Regions from separate parts of the Homo sapiens genome. Here region 2 is linked to region 1. Evidence: fine-mapped expression QTL. A gene starts in region 1. The other region holds a variant in brackets. All regions are shown on one strand. Distances are between the middles of the regions.

Region 1 (4,392 bases):
CTTATATAGTGGGGTGAGGGGAGCTTACACTGTGGAGGGGGAGCCCCTGGCACATATACACACAAATTCCAAATCCGATTTTCCTCCCATTTTAGAGCTTCTTTGAACTGTTTCCTTCTCTGAGCAAAACTTTGTCACAGATTGAGGCCTTCCTCCTCTCCCAGCCCCATTACCCTGCAGAGAGGCAGTTTTAGGACAACTTGCTACTGGATTTTTTAAAGTGAGTTTTCATGAAAATTCTTTAAGCAGGCTTGTCTGCAAGTAAGACAGTGGGCCTCAGCCAGAGCTTCTGAATTAAAATATGTAAAGCCAGAACAGAGAGGACATTTGGGGTGGGGATTGAAATAGTAAAACTCCTTGGTACACATGGAGCCTAGGCTTCTGATCTCCTTCTCCTTCCGGACATCATTTGTAACATGAATGTAAGACAGAGTAGGACCACAGCTGAATTACAATCTTCCTTCGCCCACTCTCCCCAGCTACACTTTATGGTAGTCTTTCTTTCTTCTTGGGAAAGAAAGTTCCTTCCTACGAACCCCTGGTTCAATAGGCCTGAAAACCTGCTAAGTCTTCTGAGGGTATTACTCTTAGCATTAGAATCCCTTCCAATGAACAGTAAAAAGAAGAGCAGCATCAATGCTCCTGTACATTTATCATTTTGATAGCCATTCTCCTGGTGGTTTAAAATCTTAAAATACAGAGAGGAGCACACTCACCTTTGTTCAGCCGACCCAAAGACCAATATTTCCCTTTTTCCAGGAGCATTATACTTCACAAAGCAGGTTCACGTTCATTTGCTCTTAGGCCTCAAATTATTGCTATAAATTTATTTTAAAATAGCATGTCCAGTACATAATCAGTGACAACCAGATAAACCTCTAGTTTTTGGCGTGACAAGACAGAAACTTGTGTCGGATCCTCCTAACATTGGGTATATACTCTAGGCAAAATATAAAAATAACTGTATGAAAGCATGGAGACTGATCAAGAGTTAGAAACCTACAGGGAGTATAGTCCTCAAAAAAAGGAAGTCCACCAAGTGACTTATACATGTATAGGCTTTTCCTCTGAAGATACTTCAGAGTTCACTGCAGTACACAGGGAAACAGCTCTGTCAGCAACTGGCAGTCTTACTAAGGAAACAGCTTTTGGAGTACAGAGATGCCAGAGCATCTGGAAATTGAGGAAGAAATTTAGAAAATGAATAAATTACAGAGAGAGGAACTCAAAATCTGCATCCTAACTCCCCTCCAATTCTTAGCTATCTTCTAAATGGCACTTGCGCAGGGTGAGATTTCAAGGAACCTAGTGAAAAAGTCAAATATCTGAACAGAGATTTTGGCAGCTGTCACAGTGTTAGGGTGACTGAGTTTGGAGTTCAGGACCCGTAAAATAGAGAGTTTTGGTAAATGACTTTGGGTTATGTTGAAATCCAAAAAGGACCACACCTTAGCCATAAGCACCATATCCCAGGACTAAGAGATACAGGCTAGAATTGAGAATAGGATGAAGTACTCCTTCCCTAACCAGACTGCCACAGGATCAAGACTTTTTACCAAAAATTTAATTGCCTGCCAGAACAAACTCAAACTATTACCCTTTAAAGATAATAATATAATTCAGATCCTTTGTAATGTATCAACCCCAAATGTTCACTATACAAACCCTTAGGTTTAAGTAATCCACTATCTCGACCTCCCAAAGTGCTGAGATTACAAGCATGAGCCACCATGCCCAGTTTAATAAATGTTTTAAGCTTAATGAAAAAAAATTTAAATGCCAGTCTAAGAGTTAGAAAGCTCACAAACTAGCTTGTAAGTACACAAGAGTGAAAGCAAGAGGTCAGTTAGCTAGTTAGTTACTACAACAACTCAATTTAAAAGAGTACAGTGTCCAAGGCCTGGCATGGTGGCTCATGCCAGTAATGCCAACACTTTGGGGGGCCAAGGTGGGAGGATTGCTTGAGCCTAGGAGTTTGAGATCAGCCTGGGAAACATGGCAAAACCCTGTCTCTACAAAAATAAATAAATAAATAAATAAAATTGGCTGGGCATGGTAGTGTGCACCTGTAGTCCCAGCTACTCTGGAGCCTGAGGTTGAGTAGAGGTCGAGCGGAGGTTGTGGTGATCTGAAATTGCAAGACTGTCTCAAAAAAAAAAAAAAAAAAAAGTACAGTGTGCAGTGGTTTGGACCAAGGCGATGGCAGTGGATGTGGAGTAAAGTGGATGGATGTGCCATATATAATATATAATATATAATATTATATATATATATATAGCAGATCGAACCTATATGATTTCTAAAGGGTTTTAAGTGGGCCAGAGTAAAGAGTGTCAAGGATAATAAAATAAACTAAATTCCTTGAGTGCCTACTGTTTCATCGCTGTTCATATTTGATTCTCACAACAAACCTGAGTAGGTACAACTTGCACCCGTATCTTACGTGCCATCCGTTTCTGCAGCCTTAGGACTGGGAGTACAGGCGGTGGTTCTTGGGACCCAGCTAATGCCCGAAAGGAGCCGGGTCAGGAATTCCAAGAGATGAGGGTGGGGAGGCGGTAGGGGAAGGAGCTGGGGAGGCGACCGCAGGGGCAGGGCCCGCTCACGATTGGCTGAACTGCCGAGGAGGGTTAAACAGATTCGGAGTCGCGGGCTGGTGGGAAGCTGCAGCCCCGCTCAGCCCCTCGGCCGTGGCCGCTACCTTCACTGAGACTTGGCCGGGGAGTGAGCGCGCCGAGCCTGGGAGGATACAGCACCCACTGTGGCCTGGGAGCTCCGAGGGGCTCCAGCTGCTTGTCTGCTTCCTGCTGCTGAACAGCTGCCCGGGGGGCTGCAGCGACACTAGTGCCCACGGTCAGGAGGAACCCTGGGGGGTGCGGGCAGGGCCAAGAAAGCGATCCTGAGAAGTGGGGGTCTGCAGGGGGCCTCAAGGCTAGGAAACTTGGAAGTAAAAGAATGTGCTTAAGGACGTGAGAAGAGAAAAAGGTAGACAGCGTCTAGCGGAAAGAGGCATAGGCTTCAGATAGGCTGGGCATATGGGGTCTGGACTCACGAGAAGTGGGTTCAGGTGAAAATTGGGGATTTGGGAAGAGGTCAGAAAGACAAATGAACAGAGAGAGGTAAAACTGGCCTATGTGGCCACAGGAGAAGCAAGAAAGGCCAGAAAAAGAGTTGACCAGGGCTGCGGGTATCGGGGTCTTGGCTCCAGGGAGAAGGCTGGGCCAGGAGACGAGCCAGGGCTTCCTCGTGCTGTGATCCGGTTTCCAATAAGGGGACCGCTGAGGGAAAGCAGGATGGAGGGGGAATGGGACCATCCTTCTCCCCTTCCCCCGCACCAATCCGCGTAGACCCCGCGCTGACTCACGTGCCAGACTGCGCACACTCGAGAACTCCTGCGCAGAGCGCATGGGGAAGAGAGCGCAAACTCCTAGTCTGTCGCCCCCTCTCCCTGATTTTTGGTTTTAGAGGCCAATGCAGCGGATTCAGGAACAGCTGTGGGAGGAGGCCTGGTGGCAATGAGAGGATGAGGGCCGTGGGGAAGGACCGCCAAGCCTTGCGGAGATGTCTCGCCCACATTCCGCCCAGCGCCGCCGCCACGCTGGCCTCCCCACCTCTCAGCACCACGGACAGCGCCAGGCGCGCTCCGGGTCCACGCCGAGCCCGAGCGGGTCACCACTCCTTCCCACCAGTCCTGGGAACGCTGCCTCAGAGAATCAGCTCCCCTTCCCGAAGCTCTTTCCCTTCTCCTCAGGGTGTTGGAGGTTCCACTACTTCCTTAAGGAGGCTTTCTCATCCCCAAATGTCTCTACTTAAAACTTTGTCACGCTTACCCCCAGGAAATTATTAGACATCCATTTGACTGGGTAGGAGAATTCCCTTTTCTAAAGACCTGTCCAGAATGGCTCATGGTAACTACACTATAGCAAAAAACAGACTGTCCTCCAGCCCTATCTCACTGATCTGGAAGAAGGAAGGTGTGCATAGCATTAGGGGTTCTCTTCCCCAACCCCTGTCCTTCCTCTCATGCACAGTTGGGCAAACTGTGGGCTTCAGGAAAAGGATCCAGAGCCTCAAACCCTAAACAAACCAATACCTTTTCTAATGATTCCAGGCCTCCTCCCTAACACTTCCAGGCTTCAATGACTTCCCTAAGATGAAGCTCACCTGTTTCCCCATGCCCCACCTACCCACCTGATTACTATTCCCATGTGCTCAGCTTTCTGAGCCTCTGCGCATCTGAACTTCTACAGGCTGCTCTTTGTAAATCTGGTTATCTGTAAGTTGGTACCAAGAGTGAATGAGGCCCAGGGGTTGAAGAATATGGCAAGTGGTGATGGAGGAAGGGAAAAATTAAAGAAGACTTGAAGTGGACAAAGCGGCCTGGTAGTGGGA
Region 2 (4,392 bases), 330 kb before region 1:
ATGAAGGAGAACAGGCATGGGGGAGAGTGGCAGGGAGGGGGTTTATATTTGTCCTTTCCTTTATTCATTCATTCATTCCTTCAAGCAATGGTTATGGGGTACTCACCATGTGCCTATATTCTATAGAGGGATACAGTGCTCTAGAACAGGGCACATCAGAATTACCTGGAGGGCTTGGGAAAACACAGATTCTCAGGGCTAGAATTGGCTTATGAATTTGCATTTCTAACAAGATCCCAGATGATGCAATGCTTCTGGTTCAAGACTACAGTTCAGGTAGCACTGCCACAGAAGGCAGCCCCCACTTGGTGACTGATCTATGATGATTCTGATTCACCAGTCACCTCTGAGCAGCATTCCCTCACCCATGCATGCATTCCTGCTGGCATCAGAGTCTCCACACAGAGAGTATTTCCTCTGGAATACTCTTCAATACTTGTACTTCCTTACAAAGCTTGCCTGACTTCATCACAGCCTCCCTACCCAGCACCCTCACTCCACACACACACACACACACACACACACTTCTCTACTTCTGCTCCTTATTTGTTTCTTTCGTAGGACTTTCCAGAATTTGCATGAGGTACTTGTTTACTTGTTTCTCCCCCTAGAATAGAAACTCCATAAAGGTGGGAACAATTTCTCTATAATTTTTCTGTGAATCCCCGTGAGGTGGGAAAAATTAAAGAAAGAAAGAAAAATAGAAATTAAAAAAGAGAAAAAACAAGCTGCCTGTATTAGGCTGACTCATTTCAAAGGCAGTAACAGGCAACGTTTTGATAATGTTATCTAAGGGCCAGAGCTCAAAGGAATGTGCTCTGAAGACTCTCCTAGTTCTCCCTCAACATAACGATGTGAAGAGATAAGTTTTCCTAGCTCCCCTTTAGTGTAAGTAAACTTCCCCTCGAATCCCATCCCCTCTACTATGTGACTATACCTTGCTCCTTGCTCTGTAAATTTTATGAGTTCCTGTTTTTCCCATAGTTAATGATTGTAGGTTCCTGCTTCTTCACCTAAGCAGTATAGCAAAGGTTACCAGACATGCCTGAGCAGGTCTAGCTTGCAGCCAGCTAGACACCATGGTGGGGGTTGCAAGATGAGTCTTTGTGAAACTCCTTTGAACTAACCAGATAATGACCATCTGGGCTGCATAGTAAGGAGTATACTGAACCTGAGTTATGAGCCTGCCTTAGTTTGATTAATGGCCTTTGTCTTGCCTCTGTACATTCGTGTTCGTGCCACTTAGGAGTGGGTATATAAGCAAAACCTTGTCTTTGTTCAGGGTCCAGTCTTTGGACGTTGAGTCCACTGGGTCTGAGGACACTTAATAAAAGATCCTCCTGTGTACCCTGAGGTCTCTCTTGCCCTCCTGATTTTCTGCAATACCCAGTGTCTAGCAAAGAGCTTGGAAGATAGCAGGTGCCCAATAAATGTGTTGATCCATTAACTAACTCTTCTGACAATATTTGGTGAGTGCTCACTCTGTGCCAGGAACTCTTCTAGGTGCTGGGGATACAACAGTGGACAAAATTGACCCAAAAAACCCTCAGTTAGTGGAGAATACATTTTCATGGGGGGAGCCTGATAGTAACCAGGGAGTGTGATAAATGATTATATTGTATAAGACACTATAAGGTGTTAAGTGCTATAGAAAAAAAGTGAGCAGAGCAAGGGAGCAGGAATGCTTGCAGTGGGGAGCTGGGCTGTGGGTTGAGATTTTAAATTGAGTGGTCAGTGTGGGCCTCATGGAAATAGTGACATATGAGCAAAGATTCAGGAGTTGAGGGAGTTTGCCAAGTGGATATCTTTGGAAAGAGCTCTCCAGACAGTTTAAAGTCCTTAAGGCAGCACTGTGCAATGGAACTTTCTGGAATGATGCTTTCTACCTGTGCTGTGCAATACAATAGCTACAGGCCACCTGTGGCAATTGAGCACTTGAAACGTGGCTAGTGCAACTAAGGGACTCAACTTTTTTCTTTCTTTCTTTCTTTCTTTCTTTCTTTCTTTCTTTCTTTCTTTCCTTCCTTCTTCCTTTCTTTTGAGAAATGCTAGAATGCAGTGGCACAATCATGGCTCATGCAGCCTCAAATTACTGGGCTCAAGTGATTCTCCCACCTCAGTCTCTCCTCCTACCTTTATGAGGAAAAGAGGTTTAATTGACTCACAGTAGCTAGGACCACAGGCACACACCACCACACTCAGCTAATTTTTAAATTTTTTGTAGAGACAGGGTCTTGCTGATATGGTTTGGCTCTGTGTCCCCACCTAAATCTCATCTAGAATTGTAATCCCCATGTGTCAAGAGAGGGACCTGGTGGGAGGTGATCGGATCATGGGGGTGGTTTCCCCCACGCTGTTCTCGTGATAGTGA[T/G]TGAGTGAGTTCTCACGAGATCTGATGGTTTAAAAGTGTTTAGCAGGTGCCCCCTCACTCTCTTTTTCCTGACGCCATGTAAAGAAGGTGCTTGCTTCTCCTTCACCTTCCACCATGATTGTAAGTTTCCTGAGGCCTCCCCAGCCACACGGAACTGTGAGTCAATTAAATCTCTTTCCTTCACCTGGGATTACAGAGGTGAGCCACCACGCCCAGCCTCAACTTTTAATTTTAGTTGATGTTAAGTAGCTGCATGTGGCTAGTGGAAATGACTCAAGCAGTACAGCCCTAAAGCATGAACAGGTGAAGGAATTAAGTGTGGCACAGCGGAGGGGGCTGGGGAATGGTGGGAGATGAACTCAGAAAGGCACAACAGGATGGAGAAGGACTTTATTGGTCATTGCAAGGACTCTGGCTTTTATCCCAAGTGAGATGGGAGCCATTGGAGGGTTCTGAGAAGAGCAGGGATATGATATGATTTCTGCTTTTAAAGGATTCCTTTAGCTATGCTTTGAGAGTAAACACAGAGGGGCTGAGGGTAGATGGAAAGAGACCAGTTGGGAGGCTGGGAGAGGCAGCCAGGTGAAAGACAGTGGTGGATCAGACCAGGATGCAGCAGTAAAGGAGATGCTAAGTGTCAGGTTAGAGATAGATTTTGAAGGTTGAGCCCCCAGGATTTCCTGGCAGATGCTGATTAAAGCATATATTAAGCTCCTAATATATGCCAGGCACTAGGTATGAACTACTTCTGATCCAGATTTGCCAGAGAAATGTCACCCAGGCTTTGACTGGTACCAGCTATTCCTAAGACTGATTGCACCACAGGGCATTTCTCACTCTCAATGTCCCACAATTTGGTCTTCAAACATTGCCTCTTCAGATCAGAGCCAATATAGCCTGCTGGCACTGTGAAATTTGTTGTTATTCTTATTATTATTCACCCAGCATCACTGCATGGTATCTACATTAAGGAAATAGATGACTTGAGTCCTCCATAAATCCTTCATTCTCCTGCTTTATTTCCCTGTCCATCACCTCCTCATTTATTCTTAATATTCAGGTTTTTGCATTCAAGGCCGGGCCAGCTCTCTTGAGGACATCCATCTTCTTCCTTGCACATCTGCCCTGTCCTCCTGAGACTCACACAGCCTGAGGATGGGAAATTGAGTCATCTGTCTTCTGTAACCATATGGATAAGATGTAGTCATTACCGTTCTTAGCATTGTTGTGCTTTGGAAGCTAATTAAGACAATTAGCTATTAAATACCAAAAACAATTAAGCTAATTGAAATAAACCATATGCAGTTTACAACCTTGCGTAGACAAAAAATTAACATGTGGCTGAATGGTAGCACTACAGACACTCCCATGCCAAAATAAATCAGGGACTATGGGAATCAAAGACGGAGGTGTCTTTGCACCCAATCCGTTTACCACCACAAAATGTTTCTCAAAAACATTCGGCTTGATTTTTGGAGGTTTCTTGTATTCTGAAAAAGAAAAAAGTGCATTCCCGTCCAGATGTTTCTTTCAGGCTGTAAAACAGCAGAATCATGCTGTTTCCCTGCCTCTGACTCAACTCTGTGGCTGGATGCAGCACAGAGGAGAAAGGCAGCTTCTCAGGGGACCTCTGAAGCCTATCTTTCAAAGTTAACCAAATCTCTAGGTGGAAAGGTGTCCCATGGTTTTAGGTTGCGACTGGAAGTTTTAGATCACATTTATAGTTTCCAGAGTGGAGCCAGAGGAGGAAAGAGAGGCTATATGGATGAGGGGTGCTCTGTAGGGAATGTGTTTATCTGGAATTTTTTCAGCTGCTTGTGCCAAACAACTCAACTAGAATTTGCCTAAACCGAAAATGGAATTTAGCTAGGGAGGACAAGCTGCAGGGACCAGGAACTTAAAGGTTCCCAGGGACTCAGCCCAAAAAAGATTCTGTCTGTCTGTCTGTCTCTTATCTCTGCCCGGTTCTGTGTTGGCCACACTGTGGCTACAGAGAGGTCCCCCCTCTCTGTGAGGCAAGG

The links. PIP is the estimated chance that this variant, and not a neighbour inherited with it, causes the effect.
Region 2: its variant is fine-mapped to the expression of RESP18 in putamen (GTEx, PIP above 0.99).

The regions. Positions count from the first base shown.
Region 1 is chr2:219,330,985-219,335,376 of GRCh38, reverse strand. It overlaps RESP18 (regulated endocrine specific protein 18), which reads left to right and starts at 2,633. Exons shown (of 6, transcript NM_001441699.1): 1 at 2,633-2,853. The coding sequence starts at 2,748. RefSeq lists an enhancer at 1-654.
Region 2 is chr2:219,658,193-219,662,584 of GRCh38, reverse strand. No RefSeq gene overlaps it. Among named protein-coding and RNA genes, the nearest start is that of SLC4A3, 33 kb to the right of the region's middle. RefSeq lists a cis regulatory region at 391-558. The variant T/G (reference allele first, on the strand shown) is at 2,372.